Linked DNA regions of Homo sapiens: region 1 is linked to region 2. The links come from fine-mapping of genetic effects on gene expression. A gene starts in region 2. The other region holds a variant in brackets. All regions are shown on one strand. Distances are between the middles of the regions.

Evidence for each region. PIP is the estimated chance that this variant, and not a neighbour inherited with it, causes the effect. A credible set is the group of variants that fine-mapping cannot tell apart.
Region 1: its variant is the best candidate, but not a certain one, in a credible set for the expression of CBLB in non-classical monocytes (Schmiedel 2018, PIP 0.81).

Annotation. Positions count from the first base shown.
Region 1 is chr3:105,763,661-105,771,660 of GRCh38, forward strand. The region is part of intron 4 of CBLB (Cbl proto-oncogene B); the gene reads right to left. Among named protein-coding and RNA genes, the nearest start is that of CBLB, 100 kb to the right of the region's middle. The variant T/C (reference allele first, on the strand shown) is at 3,051.
Region 2 is chr3:105,864,459-105,875,022 of GRCh38, forward strand. CBLB (Cbl proto-oncogene B) reads right to left here and starts at 4,554. Exons shown (of 19, transcript NM_170662.5): 1 at 4,278-4,554; 2 at 2,952-3,133. The coding sequence starts at 3,119. LOC105374024 (a long non-coding RNA gene) reads right to left here. Exons shown (of 3, transcript XR_007095990.1): 3 at 9,106-9,340. RefSeq lists enhancers at 2,426-2,475, 2,506-2,555, 2,676-2,765 and a silencer at 4,523-4,752.

The DNA.
Region 1 (8,000 bases), 100 kb before region 2:
TGAGAACAGACTAATATAAGTAAGTTTTATTTACTTTGCTATTAAGTCACACTTTCTCTACCAGCAGAACATGATCCTAAAAAACCAAAGAATGAGATTCTACTCTTCTTGCAAGCTAAGAAGTTGGCCTATCACAGTTTCATGTATAGTGGCAGAAGATACTGGGTTTCTGTCAAAGGACTGGGTCAGAGTCAAAGGACTTTGTTACTCACAGCAAGAGCAGTGGCTAGAGTACCAGCATTTTCTTGCCCTTGTTCCCTAAACACAAATTCTCCTAAAAGATGCAAAGAGGGCCAGGTGACATCTGCATACACTGTGGGTTTGATTCTGGAGTAGAACCTAGAACTTAAGGAACCCAAATATTTTGTAATGGATAATGCATATCCTTTGACCCAGGGAGAAATACTACCTCTATTTTACAAGGCTTTAAGATCCTTGCTCTAGAAGGAGACCTTCTCTCTCTTTATTGACCCAAGTAGACACATCCAGCAGAGAAGAGAACAAATGTTTAGAGGATTAAGACCAGGACCTCTATAAATCCAGGGGCACACACTATTAGTCCAGTGGTTCCAAATAGCTTTCAGATATTAAAAAATCAAATATCTGGGGACCAGGTATATAATATAAATTAGTAAAGATGTCCAGGAAAGGATTGTGATGAATTAGAAGAGAGATTATCTAAGAAAAACAGCTGGCACACAGGTCTAGCCAATTGCTGTCATATCACAATTCATATCTATTGTTGCCATCATTCCCAGTTTTTCAGTTTCAAAACAGTATTTTTTGTGTGAAACAAATAGTTTTTGGGCACTATGAACCATGCCCATGTAAGACAGCAAACTTAATGGTATATGTTCTCACTGCTCCACCAACACTGTTCTCTTTTCTCTCTCCCTCTCCTGGGGACTTTCTATTCCCTAAGACACAACAACACTGAAATTAGGCCAAATAGTAACCCTAAAATGACCTCAAGTGCTCAAGTGAAAGGAATAGTCACAAGTCTCTAATTATGGACATGATTAAGTTTAGTGAGAAAGGCATGTCTAAATCTGACATAGGACAAAAGTGAGGCCTCTTGCACCAAACAGTTAGGCAAGTTGTGAATGGAAAGGAGAAGTTCATGAAGGAAATTAGAAATGCTACTTCAGTGAACACATGAATGATAAGAAAGCAAAACAGCCTTACTGGTGATATGGAGAAAGTTTTGGTGGTTTGGTTAGATCAAACTAGCCACAATATTCTGTTAGGCCAAAGCCGAATCCAAAACAAGGCCCCAACTCGCTTCAATTCTGTGAAGGGTAAGAGAATTCAGGAAGCTTCAGAAGTAAAGTTTGAAACTAGCAGAAATTTGTTTATGGGGTTTAAGAAAAGAAGCTCTCTCTAACATAAAAGTGCAAGGTGAAGCACCAAGTGCTGATGTAGAAGCAACAAGTTATACAGAAGATCTAGCTAAGATCATTGATGAATGTGGCTACACAAAACAACAGATAATTAATGTAGATGAAACAGCCTTAAGATGAAAGAAAATGCTATCTAGAAAATGCTAGGGCTAGGGAGAAGTCAATACCTAGCTTCAAAGCTACATGATGGGTTCAATCATACCCCAAACCTCAGCATCATGCAATATGCAATTACTTGCATATGTACCCCCTAAATAACCTCCAAAATAAAGGTTGAAAAAGAAAAAACAAAAGCCCCCTGATAGTTGCTCACTCTTTCTACCATGTGAGGATATTGCAAAAAGATGTTTGGCCATCTGTAAATTAGGAAGTGGGTCCTTACCAGACAATTTGTCAGCACCTTGATCTTGGACTTCCTAGCCTTCAGAACTATGAGAAATAAATTTCTGTTCTTTATTTAAAAAAACAAAAAGCTTCAAAGGACAGGCTGACTCTTGTTAGTGGCCAATAAAAGTGATGACTTTAAGTTGAACACAATGTTCATTCACCATTCCAAAAATCCTAGGTCCTTTAAGAATTACGCTAAATCTACTCTTCCTGTGCTCTACAAATGGAACAAAAAACCTGGATTACTGAATATTTTAAGCCTACTGTTGAGATATGCTGTGTAGAGAAAACAATTCCTTTCAAAATAGTACTGCTCATTGGCAATGCCCCTGATCACCCAAAAGATTTGATGGAGATGTACGAGGAGATTAATGTTGTTTTCATGTCTTCTAACACAGTACTCATTCTGCAGCCCATGAATCAAGGAGCCATTTTGACTTTCAAGTCTTATTATTTAAGAAATACATTTCCTACGGCTATAGCTGTCATATATTGTGATAGCTCTGGGCAAAGAAAATTCAAAACCTCGTGGAAAGGATTCACCTTTCTAATGCCACTAAGAACATTTATGATTCAAGGGAGGAGGTCAAAATATCAACATTAACAGGAGTTTGGAAACAGTGAATTCCAAATCTCATGGATGACTCTGAGGATTTCAAGACTTCAGTGGAAGAAGTAACTGTAGATGTAGAATTTGCTAGAGAACTAGAATTAGAAGTAGAACCTAAATATGTGGCTAAATTGATGCAAATCTCATAAAATTTGAACAGACGAAAACTGCTTCTTATAGAAAAGCAAAAAAGTGCTTTCTTAAATGTAATTTACTCCAGGTGAAGATGCTGTGAACACTGCTGATATTACAATAAAGGATTTAGAATATTGCAGACACTTGGTTGATAAAGCAGTGGCAGGGTTTGAGAGGACTGACTCCAATTTTGAATGAAACTCTATTGTGAGTAAAATATTATCAAACAGCATTGCATGTTATAGATAAATATTACATGAAAGGAAGAACCAATTGATGTAGTAAACTTCACTGCTGCCTAATTTTAAGAAATTGCCACAGCCACCTTAACTTTCAGCATATGATCAGTCAATAGCCATGAACATCGAGGCACAACTCTCCAGCAGCTAAAAGATTACAACTCACTGAAGGCTCAGCTGATTGTTAGCATTTTTTAGCAATTCTTTTTTAGTTAAGGTACATATATTTTTTTAGACATAATGCTACTGCACACCTAACAGACTACAGTATAGTATAAA[T/C]ACAACTTCTATATTCACTAGGAAGACAAAAATAATCTAAGTGACTTGCTTTATTGCAATATGCACTTCATTGCGATGTACTTTATTGCAGTGGTCCCAAACTAAACCCACAATATCTCTGAGGTATGCATGTACTAGTAAATTAATTTATTATTTGTGATATTCTTTATGTGATTTTCTAATGGTACAGAGCTGATTTTAAGTATTTATCTTCTTTTTATATCCTGTCTTCCCCAAACTGAATATTGCTTACAGGTAGAAAATTACAATTGGCATCTTAGTTGTTTTGTATCTTGTTACAATGAATTGAACAAAATAGGCCTCCAATAGATATGTAAGTTTTTATTTTCCTTATTGACATAAAGATACCTGAAATTTTTTTTAACAGGCAACAAAGGGAGGTAGCTAACTAGTAGAAATATTAACTAGTGATTCTTTGAATCCTACTTTAGTTCTTTTTTCTTTCTCTTTAGAGTATCTGCTAAAAATTTTCATTGTAAAAACTCTTAATTTCTACTGTGTACCACTTCTTTTAATTTAATATAATTAGGTTGTGTTTTCTTTACCTAGAGGGAAAACTGAGCTAGTTAATATGCTAGAAGAATATATATCTCACTCGCTGGAAAGGTAAAGAAAGTATTTTCCTTTCTTTCATATTAAAAGTGAAAGGAAAATACGGGAAACCAAAGAAGGCCCTTATTGCTTTTGCAGGAAATCAATCATAGAGGCAATAAATTGAGCTATAAATAAACCATTTTCCCCCTGTGGTAACCAAGACAGTTTCTTATTTTCAATTCTACCTTCATCTCGGGATACACATAAAATAATTTTTAAAATTTTTCTTTTTCTTTCTTTTTTTTTTTTTGCTTTTAGATTGCTACAGAGTATGAAACTTCCATCATACAAAGTCAAATGTAAATTACATTATTTAGAGAATTTGGACCACTTTTAAAGGTTTCAATTGGTTAATTATTCCACAAAATAGAATATTTATTATATGCTAGACACAGTTTTATGTGCCTTACAGGTAAGGTTTAGCTATTTTAAGCCGTCATAACAACCATTGATGGTAGGTATTATTAGTATCATCTACATTTTATAAATGAGGAAAAAGATGCATAGAAAAACCAACTAGATTCCCCAAAGTCACAAAGTGAGTAAATGTTGCAGTCAGAACCTGTCCAGGGACAGATAATCTGGCTGCAGAGCCTGCATGCCAAACCCTAAGTATGCTGTCTCCCAATCAATCAAGCAAGCAGGCTCCATCTCACACATACACATGCTAATGCACATTCCTCTACTTCTCAACTCATCTGAATTAAATGTACAATGGTTCCTGAAAGCCTGTATATAAAACATTGTGCTGAGCTACTTTAGAAATACAAAGATGAATAAATAAGCTTGATTTCATGGAGCATATAGTCTAGGGGGAAGTATGACAACTAGACAAATACTTGTAATAAAACCATAAAAATAGTAAATGCAGAAGATAAGCCAGAGCTTAGCGAAGTTTAAGAAGAGATCTAGTAATAACACTAATGGGAAAAATTATGAGCAATATTATCTTTGAGGGATTAGTAAGAATTGTTATGCCAGAGATTATAAAAATCTTCAAGTAGAAGGAGCAATATAAGCAAAGACATAGAAACCTATAATTGCTGATGTGTCCAGAAAGAGCCAAATAAGCCAATTTGACTGAAGAACAGAACATAAGTAAAGGAAGAGAGAGCTTAAATGGCAGAAAAGTTGCATCCTATACTCATACATTCAACTAATAACTACTAAATGTCTACAATGTATATGGTACGTAAAAGACTCATTCAACAACCATTTACAAAGTAGTTTAAAGATTATATTGAAAATGAGGCTAGCATATGTGAAAGCACTGAACACAAAATCTGACATACAATAACTCTAATAAATGTGTCTGTTTTCACCAACTTTTGCATAGAAAGTCATTGAAGACTCTTGCAATCAAGCAAGAAAGACCTACATAGTAAACACATTTTACAATATAAATGTGTCTAAAATACAACAGCAACCAAAGTATAGAGTAATTAACATAGATCACGTAGAAGGGTGTATATGAATGAGAAAAACTCAGAAAAGTGGACTTATGAACTGAACTTAAAGAAAGGTGTCAAAATTCTGAGACAGATGAAAAGAAAGAGGGAAGAGAGGCATCTAAGGAATAGAAATGTAGGAACTGATCATTTAAAAAGAGATCAATTTATATATAATGAAGTCATTGGAAATTGAGAGTAGAGGATAGACATCGTCCATCTATGCAATTATTCATGTAGTCTGTTAACAATTATTGCCGCCGGGCGTGATGGCTCATGCCTATAATCCCAGCACTTTGGGAGGCTGAGACAGGTGGATCACCTGAGGTCAGGAGTTTGAGACCAGCCTGGCCAACATGGAGAAACTCCACGTCTACTAAACATACAAAAAAAACATTGCCGGGCGTGGTGGTGCATGCCTGTAATCCCAGCTACTTGGGAGGCTGAGGAGGGAGAATCGCTTGAACCCAGGAGGCAGAGGTTGCAGTGAGCCGAGATGGCGCCATTGCACTCTAGCCTGGGCAACAAGAGCAAAACTCCACCTAAAAAAAAAAAATTATTATTGCCTAAACATTCCAGGAAACGTGTCAGGCTCAAAAACACAAAAATAAGTAAGATGCAGTCTCTGCTTCCAAATAAACTTTCCAGTCTATTGGAAACCTCTCAATTGAGAAATGGGGGCATGTCAGCAGTTCACTGTAATATATTTTGACAGATGTGAGCTCAGGTACCTGGCAGCACAGAGTAGGGATATCCATTAGGGTACTAAAGTAAAGCTTTCAAAGTGGCAACACTGGATAGAGCATGGGTGACTGCCTATCCAAGCAGTGAATGCAACATACGAAAACAAAGACAATGAGGAGTAAAAAATGAGACACACATTGGGAAATATGAACAGTATTGAGTTGTTTCTTTGCAGATGAGTTAAGTATACCGAAATGATAAGTAGAAAAAAAGAAGCCAGCGAAAAAGTTTCTAAAGCTTGTGATGTTTAATGTGATTTTAGACTTTAACCTAGAATTAATATTCATGCAAACACTTCAAGCGAAAGACTGGAATGATTAGCTCTGCTTTTTAGACAGCTCACTGGTCCCCTAAGAACAATAGGATAGGTTGTTATTGGAGATAGGGAGACTAATCAGAAGGTTGTTGGGGTAATGCAGAGCATGAATTTAAATTTGAAGAAGAGAATTTTATGTATGGAGAGGAGAGGCTATGTAAGAAGATTCAAGAGTTAGAATCTGTGTTTCTAATTGAATTATAATTTGTTTGGAAATTTATGTCTAAATCTTCTCAATGCTAATTTTTGTTTTTTTTTTTTTTTCAAGATGGCAGACTGGAGGCAGTGTCAGCATGCTTCTCCCACTTGGAAGGACAGAATAATGTGCAGAGATTCAGTGTGAATTTTTTCCCAAAGAACCAACACAGGAACTTAGGAAAACAGAATCCACAGACCCTGTGAAAGAATTGGGAGGCTATAGCCTACTACGTGAGACAGGTGAAAAACTCCTAAGTCCTCAGAGTGCGAGAGGGGAAGAGTCTGCCTCCAAGTACACATCCCCACCAGGGAATCTGAAAATCCAGGCCACTGGAGAAGCCCTTCACCCTTCCAATAGCTGGAACAGATTTAGGGAAATAAAAAAGTAGGAGCCGCAGCAGGACTTCCCAATCTCCAGCATGAACCCAGGGAAGCTATTCCTGAATATATCTCACAGGGACCCTCTGGAAGTCAGCCAATGAGCTCAGGGAAAGGACACAGGGTGAAAGAACCTCCCAACTGAATTTTGTAATATAATCTCGAGTGGAACAAATTCCCTTGAACAGAATGGGGAGGGAGGAGTTGCGGCAAGTGGGAAGTGTGCTGCAGACAGGAGCATAGGAGCTGGGTGCCTGGCCATGCCTGGGAAGACGAAGAGGGGCATGGCTTTTTGAAAGCCATGGCAGCTTTCTATGTGGAGAAGCTTATGACCTGGGGCAGGTCTGAGTTCTGTCTATAGACTACCTGGATCTAAACCAAGCATTGTTAGCAGAGCACTGTGGGAGTGAGATCAGCCTCACCAACTGCAGGAGAGCTGGGTAAGGTTTACTGCCACCCAATAACAATAACAAGCAGTGAGACTGAATCAGTAATTTTAAAAATGCAAACAGAGAAAGTCCAGGACAAGATAGATTCACAACTGAATTCTACCAGACATTCAAAGACAAATTGGTACTAATCCTACTGAAACTGTTCTAAAAGACAGAGAAAGAGGGAATCCTCCGTAAATCATTCTATGAAGCCACTACCATGCTAATATCAAAACCAGGAAAAGACATAACAACAACAAACTACAGACCAATATCTCTGATGAACATAGATGCAAAAATCCTCAACAAAATACTAGCTAACTAATCCAACAGCACAACAAAAAACTAATACATCACAATCAAGTGGGTTTCAGAGATACAAGGACAGTTTAACATATGTAAGTTAATAAATGTGACACATCACATAAACAGAAATTTTAAAAATATATATAATCATCTCAATAGACCCAGAAATAGCATTTGATAACATACAGCACCCCTTTATAATCCCTCAACAAAATATGTATAGAAGAGATTTACCCGAAAGTAATAAAAGCCATATATGTCAAATCTATAGCTAACATCATACTGAATGGCAAAAAGTTGAAAGCATTCCCCCTGAGAATTGTAACCAGATAAAGATCCCCACCTTCACCACTTCTATTCAACCCAGTACTGGAAGTCACAGCCAGAGCAATCCAATAAAAAAAAAGAAAGAAGAAGCATCCAAATTGGAAAAGAGGAAGTCGAACTGTCATCATTCACTGATGATATGATCATATACCTAGAAAAGCCTCAAGATTCATCCAAAAAGCTCCCA
Region 2 (10,564 bases):
TCTATCACTGTATCAAATAAGCATCCACTGATGTGAGGGCTTCTGGGTCGGCTATCAAATTACACATACACAGAGCTAAGGCCAGAAAATCTGTAATGGGATGTTTTGGGATATGCTACTATCTACTATTCTTTTCCTCAAAACATAGACTATGCTAACTCTGTGCTACTGATTTTCTGTTACAAAACACTCTACATCTTATAAGGAACACAACTGAGCAATTACGCTCTCCTATTCTCAGTGACCTTAGAGCAAAAGCCTGCCCTCTGAAAACAGAACATTAATTGGAAAGAATTTCAATTGACCATTTTAAATTCCAGAGGCCAAGAAATGGTAAAACTACATACTCACTAGATATTTCCCCTACAACCCAAGACTGCTTCATTATTCCCTGTAAAAATAGTTATTTTACTTTATTGGTAGCTGAAACACACTGAAATTGAAGCTTGTGTTCATATTTATACTTCCAAGATCTACCCTTGCAAAGAGGCTTCATAAGAAAAAAATATTAACTATACACTTAACTCTGCCTTTTACATACCTACCAATTAGACTTGAAAATTGCTATTTTCTGTTATTCACAAACTAAATTCATGCTATTGCAGTTATTTTTTTAAAAAGGTAATGTGTCAAGGGATTAACTTCAGAACTAATAATAAAGTTCCTGATGTAATCATCAGGACAATGTTGATATTATGAGCCACTTCCTTCACCACTAACAAATAAGAAAAGATAAACAAAAGAGGGGGATGTTTCTGTACTACACACTTATATACTGCCAATTAGTAATTATCAATGCCTTTCTATTTACTGTATCTTACAGTAAAAATAAACATACTGAATTCTTTCATAATAATTTATGCAATTTCTCTCCACAAAGCCCCTGGGTACATTCACAAATGAACACAACCATTTTCATCTTTGACAAATAATGAAGACAAACAGGCAATGTACATTTGCCAACACCCGCACCCACATCCCACTAAGTAGAGACTTTTGATAATAGATTTCCTTGTTGGGTCAAGTTTCTCAATTGGAGAGACTAAACCTAAACCCACAGAAGGGTTAATAAAATAAACAATAGCAGATGTTTAACTATCAAATAACCATCTATTTTACCATAACTCATGGTGAAATAATTAAAAGTGAATAAAACTTATGTTAACAACCAGTTACAGACCAAAATTGTGTACATCATTTTTAATGTTTCAAAAATAATGATTTTATAGTAACTATAGCTCACCACATCCTTATATAAATCTTTTTGATTTGATGTCCTAACACAAATGTACAAACACTGACCACTCAAAGTTGGAGGGTGGGGGAAAAAGAACAGCCCCTTTATAGAATCTGAACCATTTGCTGTCCACTTACGTAGCAGATAAGTTAGAGAAAAACCTTGAATTCCTTCTCTTACCCCAACTAATGATTTAGGCAGTGAGAGTGACCTTCAAATGCACACTCTTTAGCAAAGACAAGATAGGCAGCATTGTGCTTGACAAATATATGCTATTTTTCCAATTGAATAGTCCTTATTCTAAAGTATCCAATGCTAAAATCAAAACTGAACCCCAAGCAGCAAGTTGCAATATTCTGACACTATGACATCATTCTGTCTGGAGCACTTTAATATAACAATTTGAATAAATTGGCAGAAGCGTAAATAGGTCACACTGAAGCCCAAAACTAAGGCTATTTATCTGGCAAAAATATTCTGGCTCTGCATTTAGCACCATTGCCTGTAGAATGACAGGCCAGTCATTCATCTGTGTGTCCCTTCCATCAGAATAAATGAAAATAATGGAAATCTTGTCACATTCATATGTTGCTACTACTACTGATAGTGGCTTTTATAGCCAATATTTACAGACAGGAGCAAATCAAAGCAAAGATGAATGTTATCACATGATTTCATGGATGCTTTGGCACATCCTTACACAGAAATTTGTTTTTAAAACCTCCATTTCTTCAGTTATAAAGATACTGAGTCTTGCCTCAACTAAACTTATAATTGGCCCCAGATATCTATGAAATAAAGTCATAATGTGTTCCAAACATTTACTAATAAATCCAGGACAGTGCTACTGCTTCAAAAAAAAGAATTATTAATTTTTGCAAAGCAGCAAGCTACATCTTAAATTTATTTTATAATCATACTTAGTAAGGTAGGATACTGACAGCTACAGTTTCTGAGTAAATCTCTGTAAGGTATTCAGATTGACTTCTCTGGATACTGACACCCATCATGATTTCTTCTTGTGAAATTATAGTTTGTCTGAAAGCAACATGCAGAAACCACAGAGGTTTCTGATACTCTCAGCCTCACCACCCCCAACATAAATTTTCCTTTCACAATAAACAATGTGCCATCGAAAGGTTTCCTGTTTCAAAATGGAATAGTAGATGAAAGAAACTGTTAACTCTCCCATTAACAACAAAAAAAGTTTCTTAATGAAGATGAATTCTCAAAGATGAAAATGGAAACTCCCTCAACTACTGCTTCTTCACTTAAGAACTAATCTGTTTCTTTCCCCAGTAAATATTTTCAGTATCATACCAGATGATTGTCATGAGTGGTCAAAGACTTAAATAACCTGCTGGTACTCTTTTGTTATCTAAGAGCAACACAACCTCACAGAAGACAGAACAAACACTTCCAAGCATTCTATGGCCATACACCAACAAAAAGCAGCCAATGGTAAAACTTTACATACTGAGTCATGTAGAGGAACTCTGAACCTTAAAGAGTAGAAAGGATGAAAGGTTAAAAAACAAAAAAGTCTTTGAATCCAACTTTTCAAAAAACACAGAGTTGAAGAAAAATGATGAATTGAAATCAAAAGATTGTTGCCATAACAATGGTTGGTATTAATTAACAGTATAAATAAATCTGGAGAAACCACAGACAAAGTGAATAGTGTTTCGCACAGGCAACGTCAGACAGAACTTACCACTTTGTCCATGAGCTTCCAAGTCTTCTCCACGGTCCTGCGATCTGCGGCAGCTTGCTTAGGGGGTCCAACTGCATCCTGAATAGCATCAATAATACCCAAAATTCGACCTTTTCGGGGATTTCCTCCTCGACCACCAGGGTTTCTGCCATTCATTGAGTTTGCCATCTGGAATTTTAGTTCTTTAAAAGGCAGATTTAAAAAAAGAAAAGTTAGTTGGTTTTGAAAATATTTACCCACCAGAAAACTAGAGACTAACTTGTACCACTGCATCTTCCTCCATCGATTAGAGCAAAACCAAAAGTTCCGGATTCATCTTTATCAATAAGCTTGTGAATTTACACTCTCAATCTTTACACACAGTAGTTTTAAGAGCAGTGATCCTAGATTTGCTTTTACAATACTAAGAGTTAAAGATGCATCCTGCTCACGTTTCAAGTAGCTAAGGCTGAACTAATACTCAACTCATAAAAAAAAAAAAAAGAACAAACAAAACTTAAACAGGTTTCCCCCACCTAGATAAAAACAGAATGTTCTTCCCCTCCTGCCTTAATTCCAATTCAAAATACCAGAACAACTGAAGGTCCTATCATACATTTTGGGAGCCTTACGCAGAAACTTCACTTTCACTCTGTTAGATTTCTCCAAGTTACATAAACATAAAGATTATCCTACACAAACGTAAGGGACAGCTCTGTTGTCAACAAAAGCGCAGGGCATGTCCCACACTAAAACCACCAAGTACGGACACACGAACACCTTTCTTTAAATCAACGCGGTGAGTCGTTATTCCCAAGAACCAAATGAAATTAACACACAAATAGCCCATTTGAAAAGAGAAAAGAGAAAAATGACAAGAGCGGCCACGGAAAGGAGGAGTTCACTTCTCTGGCTCCTCGCCTCTGCCCTCAACCCAAAGCTTTGTTTCAGGACGCCTGTGTCCCTTCCCTGCTCAGGCCCCTTCCCGGCCCCTCGGGTCTGAGCTGCAGGAGGAAGGTGGACTGGGAGGGGACAAAGTGTCCCTCCCGTGCCCGCAGCACCGTCCGTCTAGGGCGCGGGAGGGACACTGTGGGCTCGGCGCCTGGGTGGACGCGCCTCCCGGCCGCCTGCTGCAGTCCTCACCGCCGTCTGCCTGGACGCCCTCTCCCTCCTCCCCGGCCTGCGGGTTCTGGTCTTTAAATGCCCCACTTCAAACTGGACGGCGGCGGCAAAGGCAGCTGAGAGCCAGGGCTGTCCCCTCTTCCTCCTTGGCCCGCGCCTGGCTACCCCGGGCCCCCGGGCCGGCAAGAAGTGTGGAGCCTCCCCGGCGACCCCTTCCCTTCTTGCCTTTCGGCGCCGTAGCTGTCCAGAGACACGCGTGTGCGCGGGTCCCACTCCACACGCACGCAGCCCAGTGTGTGTGGGGAGCCCCGGCTGGGAGTGGGATCGCTGAGAACAGCTCGCTCCCGAAGAAGGAGCAACCCAGCGCGCAGGCCTCCGAGACGTGGAAACGCAACAATTACCGTCAAGACAAATCCACACCCGCTCTCCCCTCCCGCCCGACTCGGGGAGGCCGCGGGACGCCGCAGCAGCACTAGCAGGAGGAGGAGACCGCTCGCTGGACACCCCACCCCTGTGGCACACACAGGACCCAGGCTCGGGGCGGGGCGGGGCGGGGGCGGGGCCGGGCGCCGCTGAGCCAATGCCGCGCAACCGCGCACTGCCCGACAGCGGGTGCAGCCAATGGACGGGAGGCGCCCGTCCTCCTCGCGCTGCCGCCCCGTCCACGTCCTCCACAGTACACAATGGCCCCAGAGGAAGGCCCGCTCGCAGCACGTCAGAAAGGAATTGGACTCGGAGAGAAATGAGGGGCCTGGACTCTCCCGGGAACGAAAGTGGAAACGGGAAAGGAAATGGACGAAGGGATGCAAGGCACGAAGGAGCTAACCAATAAGGGGTGGCAGGTGGGCGTGAGCGTCGGGACCGGGAGCCAAAGCCATCTGGGGCTGAAAGGCGGGACTTCCTGCTTCGCTTACCTTCCTAGTCTTTTGTTTCATAGCAACAGAGTAGTGGCTGGAAGGGTGTTGCTTCTCCGCTCTGGGCGGGTCCAACGCTGGAGAAATTCATCTCCCTAGGGCTGCCAAACCCTTCTACCCAGGACAGCAGCCAAACAGGTCTATGACGTTGCTTCTTGTTGGCTATCAAAAAGAGCAACAGCCACTGAGCTTCTAAAATGCAGAATAAATCTCACAGAGAGTAGGCTGGGGTGACATCTGAATGCCAACTGAAACTTCCCAAGTTTCCGAGTTTCTCTTTTGCTGTTAGTTTTAGAGGGATTGCAGACCAAACATCAGGCTGATGAAAAAGCAAATAGTTGACAACGCTGGCCAAACAGTCTCTGCTAATCATGCCAAAGCAATAAAAGTACCAGATAATGGGAATTGCTGATAAATACCTTGCACCTTTTTACTTAGTGCAAGTTTCTGCCTAAATGACTGAGGAGGAGACAGCTACTGTGTTTTGTCGGAGTCACCTTTACATAGATTTCTATCCATTTAAAAACAACCTTACTGTAGCTGCCATTCTCTACCAGCATTGTTACCTCTTTCTGTGGCTCCCTTCTTTGTGCTCTTAAAAAGGCCGACATCTGGCTAGTCTTTAAAGGAGAAAGCTACTGTGCTGGGACTTGTCTTTCAGCAATATCATAGGTTAAACAAATGCCTTCCATTTATTTCAGTTTACTTCAATCCCACCACTCATGCTACCAACAATTGCTCTGGACTTCATACTTTGGAACTTTCTTTCCACTACAGTTGATAGCGTTTATTACACTTTTCAGCTTGGACATCTCAGATGTTCTGATATTTTACATTGGGTTTTTTGTTTTTGATTTTGTTTTTTCAAATCTTGCTCTAACCACGTAACCTGATAAAATGTTTCTCAATGGTTCTAACCACTTTCTAGCAACTAAGAATTTTAATACTGTAATTATTACTATGAAGGATCCTGAGTTTTCCTTTACAGCCTTGAATTTACATGGTTAAGATTTTAATTTGACGAAAACAGAAAAAAAATGTGCCTTTGCAACCAGTCAGGTGATAAAGTGTGATTCAGGAAGTAATTTTGTTTCCTTGTCATTATTTCTGTGCCAGTAATTAAAGAGTAGTTCCTTGTTTTCACATTGCATTTATCTACAAAAGTGCTGGCCTCTCCATATCTCCTCCACCCATCCATATCTCTTTTACTCATAGTCGTAGTAGCTACATTTACTAAGGGGAGACTGTAAAAGAAAAAAACTGTGTTACCTTTAAAATAAATTTTAAAAGAATTAATGTGTAGAAGCATGTAGCAAAACAGTGGCTTAAGGGAACATTATAACTAAGTATATTACTTATATTCATATCTGGATAAATGTAAAATACCCAAAATACATGTTATAGCATGTGCCATTCCTTTTATATGGTGTTTTGCAACTGAAAGAGATGAGTTAATGAGAAAATGGCATTGCCTATGGTATCAAGCATATCATGTTGATATAAATTACAAGTTTTGAGGTGTATGGTTTGACGTATTTTGAAATATATGTATGTGAGATACGGTAGCATCCCTTACCACTTATTTGCCATCTCACTTTCCTTGGTTCTAGTTACCTGTGGACAACCAGGGTTTGAAAATAGGTGAGTATAGTACAAAAAGATATTTTGAGAGAGAGAAAAATACCACATTTATATAACTTGTATTACAGCATATTGTTATTATTTTATTAATAGTTATTGTTATTAATCTCTTACTGTGACTACTTCATAAACTTATCATAGGTATGTATGTATTGGAATACTCATAGTATATATAGCGTTCAGTATTTTCTGAGATTTCAAGCATGCACTGTGGGTTTGAGCATATCCTGTGGATGAAGGGAACTGCTGTATGTACATATGTACGCATGTGTGTGTGTGTGTGTGTGTGTGGTCAAGAAATTATAGCTTATCATCAACTAGCTATTTTATCAAGCAATCTGGAATCCAGGTTAAGTTCTGGTGTAGCAGGGTTCCCAGTTGAGCTGAAACTCGGATTCAGTTTGGTTTTCTCTCATAAACTGATGGAGCAGTAGAAGTCCTCCCTGCCAATTATTAGAAAAAGTAAATGTGCACGGGGAATAAATAACTGCTGGGATAAAACTTCAAACCCCGGGTGCCTCCAGTAGAGACACAAGAGATAAAGCACAATAAAAGATGCATGCTTCAGGACTATAAATAAGAAGACAAAGAAATGTTTCCATAAGAGATTTTAGGACATAAGCAGTAGTACTTCAAGCTGACAGAGTTGGCTAGAGAAACAGTCACCTCATTTCTATAGAACAAGTCAGTCCCCAGTAGGGTGCAGTTTAAAGTGAATGCAGCATCAGTTAGCAGTGTGGGAAATTGTAACCTAGAAAGAACATGTATATGGCCTTATTACGGGACAGCAGTGTTCTACTGGAAGATCCTGACATAAGACAGAATGGTGGCGCTCCTACATGAAGGATCTTGTAAGCACAAGGGTGGCTAGTAAGTGAGTAATGTGAGCAAACCGGTCATAAGGACATGTGAGACCCTTCCCCCAGGTCTCCCAGAAAAGAGGGGGAGACTTCGTGGCAAGAATACTTAAGAAATTATGTAGAAACAGCTGTGAACCCGTGTAATTTGAGCATTACTGTTTGACATTAATATATGTACCAATAGGCTGGTGCCATCTAGAAAAATGCGGCTTAAATTCCAGTCTGTAAACACAAGACATTAAGGAAAAAAAAGACAATTATTTGAGGAAAATATTTAGACTTTTGTCATTTGCTTTAATTTTTCTTTTCTTCTATTTTTTCCAAATTCACAACTGACCCCTGTGATATTGGACATGAGTTGACTAAATAACAAAGCCCCTCCATAACTTATGTAACCCATAATAGCTCAAAAATATTAATTGAATAAATGAATTGACTGTTTAAGAGTATTACATACAAAATATAATGCTGTTCCTGTTTCTGCACAATGGAGAATTCATTTAATTCACAATTCCAAGCAAGATTTTATTTTTACTATTAAGTAGATTTACAGTGACGATCCTAACACAAAAACAGAATACCACAACAGAAATTTCTAATTTCTCATAGAGAACACGGACCCAAATCTCAGGTTAGAGAGAAATAAGAGCAATATGACCTCGTAATATTTGGGCATAACAAGTTGTTCTTTGTTACGTGAAATAGAGTTCCATTCATCATTAACCCATTACATTTAATAGTTGGCATTGAGGGATGCTGATCCAGGGGCTCATCAGATATAACCAGACTCTGAGTCCTAGCTTGGGCTCAACTAGAATGCTAGCTTAACAACAACAGTATTAACAACAAAAATAACAATGACTTAAATAAGATAAATCTCTCACACATAGAAAAAGGTCTGAAAGTAGGAATTACAGGTAGATATGGTGGCTCCACAATTTTCTCAAGGACCCAAGTTCCTATCTTTATTCTGTACCATCCCAGCCTTGCTTCCCACCTTCAGAATCACGTCGTGTTCCAAGATGGCTATTGGCTCTCCAGCCATCACCACTGATTTTCAGGCTAAAAGCTAAGAGGAAAGGCAGGAGGGCAAATGGATCTTCCATCTGAGTTAGTTTCCTTTGACCAATCTTCAGAGAACTCTCACAAGTATCTCTCTTAAACAACTCAAGGCCAGAATTTAGTCCCATAGCCAAATTTAGCTGCAAAATCTGGAAGGCAATATGTTTTTTATTATGGGAAGCAATATAAAAATTCTAGTTTGTTTCTAAAGAGAAAGGGATGAATAGATGTTGTAGCAAGAAACTGGCGAGTCCTACCACAATAATACTCTAAAAGTTAAATATATTATTAATAATTCACTTCTTGAAGGAAAAACTGAAGATCCCAATGCAAGTGGTGTAAGATAATGATAATTTTGTATACTCATTTGAAATCCAGAACAATATGTGCATGCACACACACACACACACACACACACACACACGTAATCTTAACATCATTCCCTTAGCCATATTTATTAAAAGCTGCAACCATTTCTTTAGTGGGCAGAAACATGCATCTGCTATTACTAGACACATATATCCTTTAATGTCTATCATATGTAAGTATATATAGTAAATTATATACAATTCTCATTACAGCATGTGTGCTCAATAATCCTGAACAATCAATATCAGAGCGTACAATGGCAAAATTAAGCAAGAAACGTTCCTAATAGTTTTCCATCCCAAAGTTTACTTCAGATTAAACAGTTACATATCTGAAGAACAAATGAATGTCTTCACAATCACTTCTTTGTGATTTTCTTTCCCAGACAATTGATTCCCAAATCAATTCTTTTCCACACAATGATTTATTTGGTAGTTGTTCTCTGTAATAAAGACGATTTATACCAAAGCATTAAATATTGCTACTTGTAAACTTGGAGTAAACCTACTATTTTGTCTCAGTTCTATATTTTTTTCATGCCCCTCTCACGTTTCCTGTGTTTCCCTAAGAAGCCATGATTCAAAAAAAATGGACAATTTTCTTTTCCCTCAAGATTTTTGTGAAGAATGTAAAGTTAGAATTTGTTATAACAGTGTCTCTACAGTCCCCATGCATTTTGATTAATACCAAATAAATACAACACTGAATTTTTATTTTTATTTTTTAATTAACAATATAAATTCAGAAATTTTAAGGCTGAAGGGGATCTTGGTACTGATCACACCACTCAGTTTGCCAGATGAGGAAATTGGCAAATTTATCCAGGGTGATTGAACCCTAAAAGGTGTAGGTAATAAACCTAAATTCATGGATTATGTTATAGTGTAAAAACCATGTAATTACATGAAAAGTAACTGCTAATCAGAATAAAATTAACATAGACCAGTTATATGTTCATTTTTCTACTCAAGAAGGCATATTAAGATCCAAAACAAATATAGAAATCAGAAGAAAATGACCTACAGAAGTAACTCTAACAATGCCAGTAGAGATCTAATATATTGCAAATCTACAGAAAGTCTTCCCTATTGGTTTTCAAGTTCCTATTCTCAGTATAAAGGAAATGATCTTTTTCTATTTTAATTATCTTGTTTGTTTTAGGGGACAAAACTTATTAGGCACCTATCTTTATGTTATCAGCTAAAATTTCTGATTTCTTATTCACTCATCTATTTAATGTGCCTTTTTTAAAGTACCTAATATATTCCAAGCATTATGCTGGACATCAGGATGTACAAAGATGATTATGAACCAGTCATTGTTTCCAAAGAGAAAGGAACATAAAGAGATTATTATAAACTCAAGTGGTAAAAGCAGTAATTTCTATAGGCAGAGGTCATTATGAGAACTGAGGAAAGGCACTCAACCCAGCTTGGAGAAAGTAATTACTAAACCAAGACATATACGATAAATAGGATTAATAGTTAATCACAGGAGGATCATTCTAGTCAGAGGAGAGCTCATGAACAAAGCCATAAAAGAAAGAAAGCTGAGTATGAAGAGAGAATAAGAGGCCAGGTGTGGTGGCTCACGCCTGTAATCCCAGCACTTTGGGAGACTGAGGTGGGTGGATCACCTGAGGTCAGGAGTTCAAGACCAGCCTGGC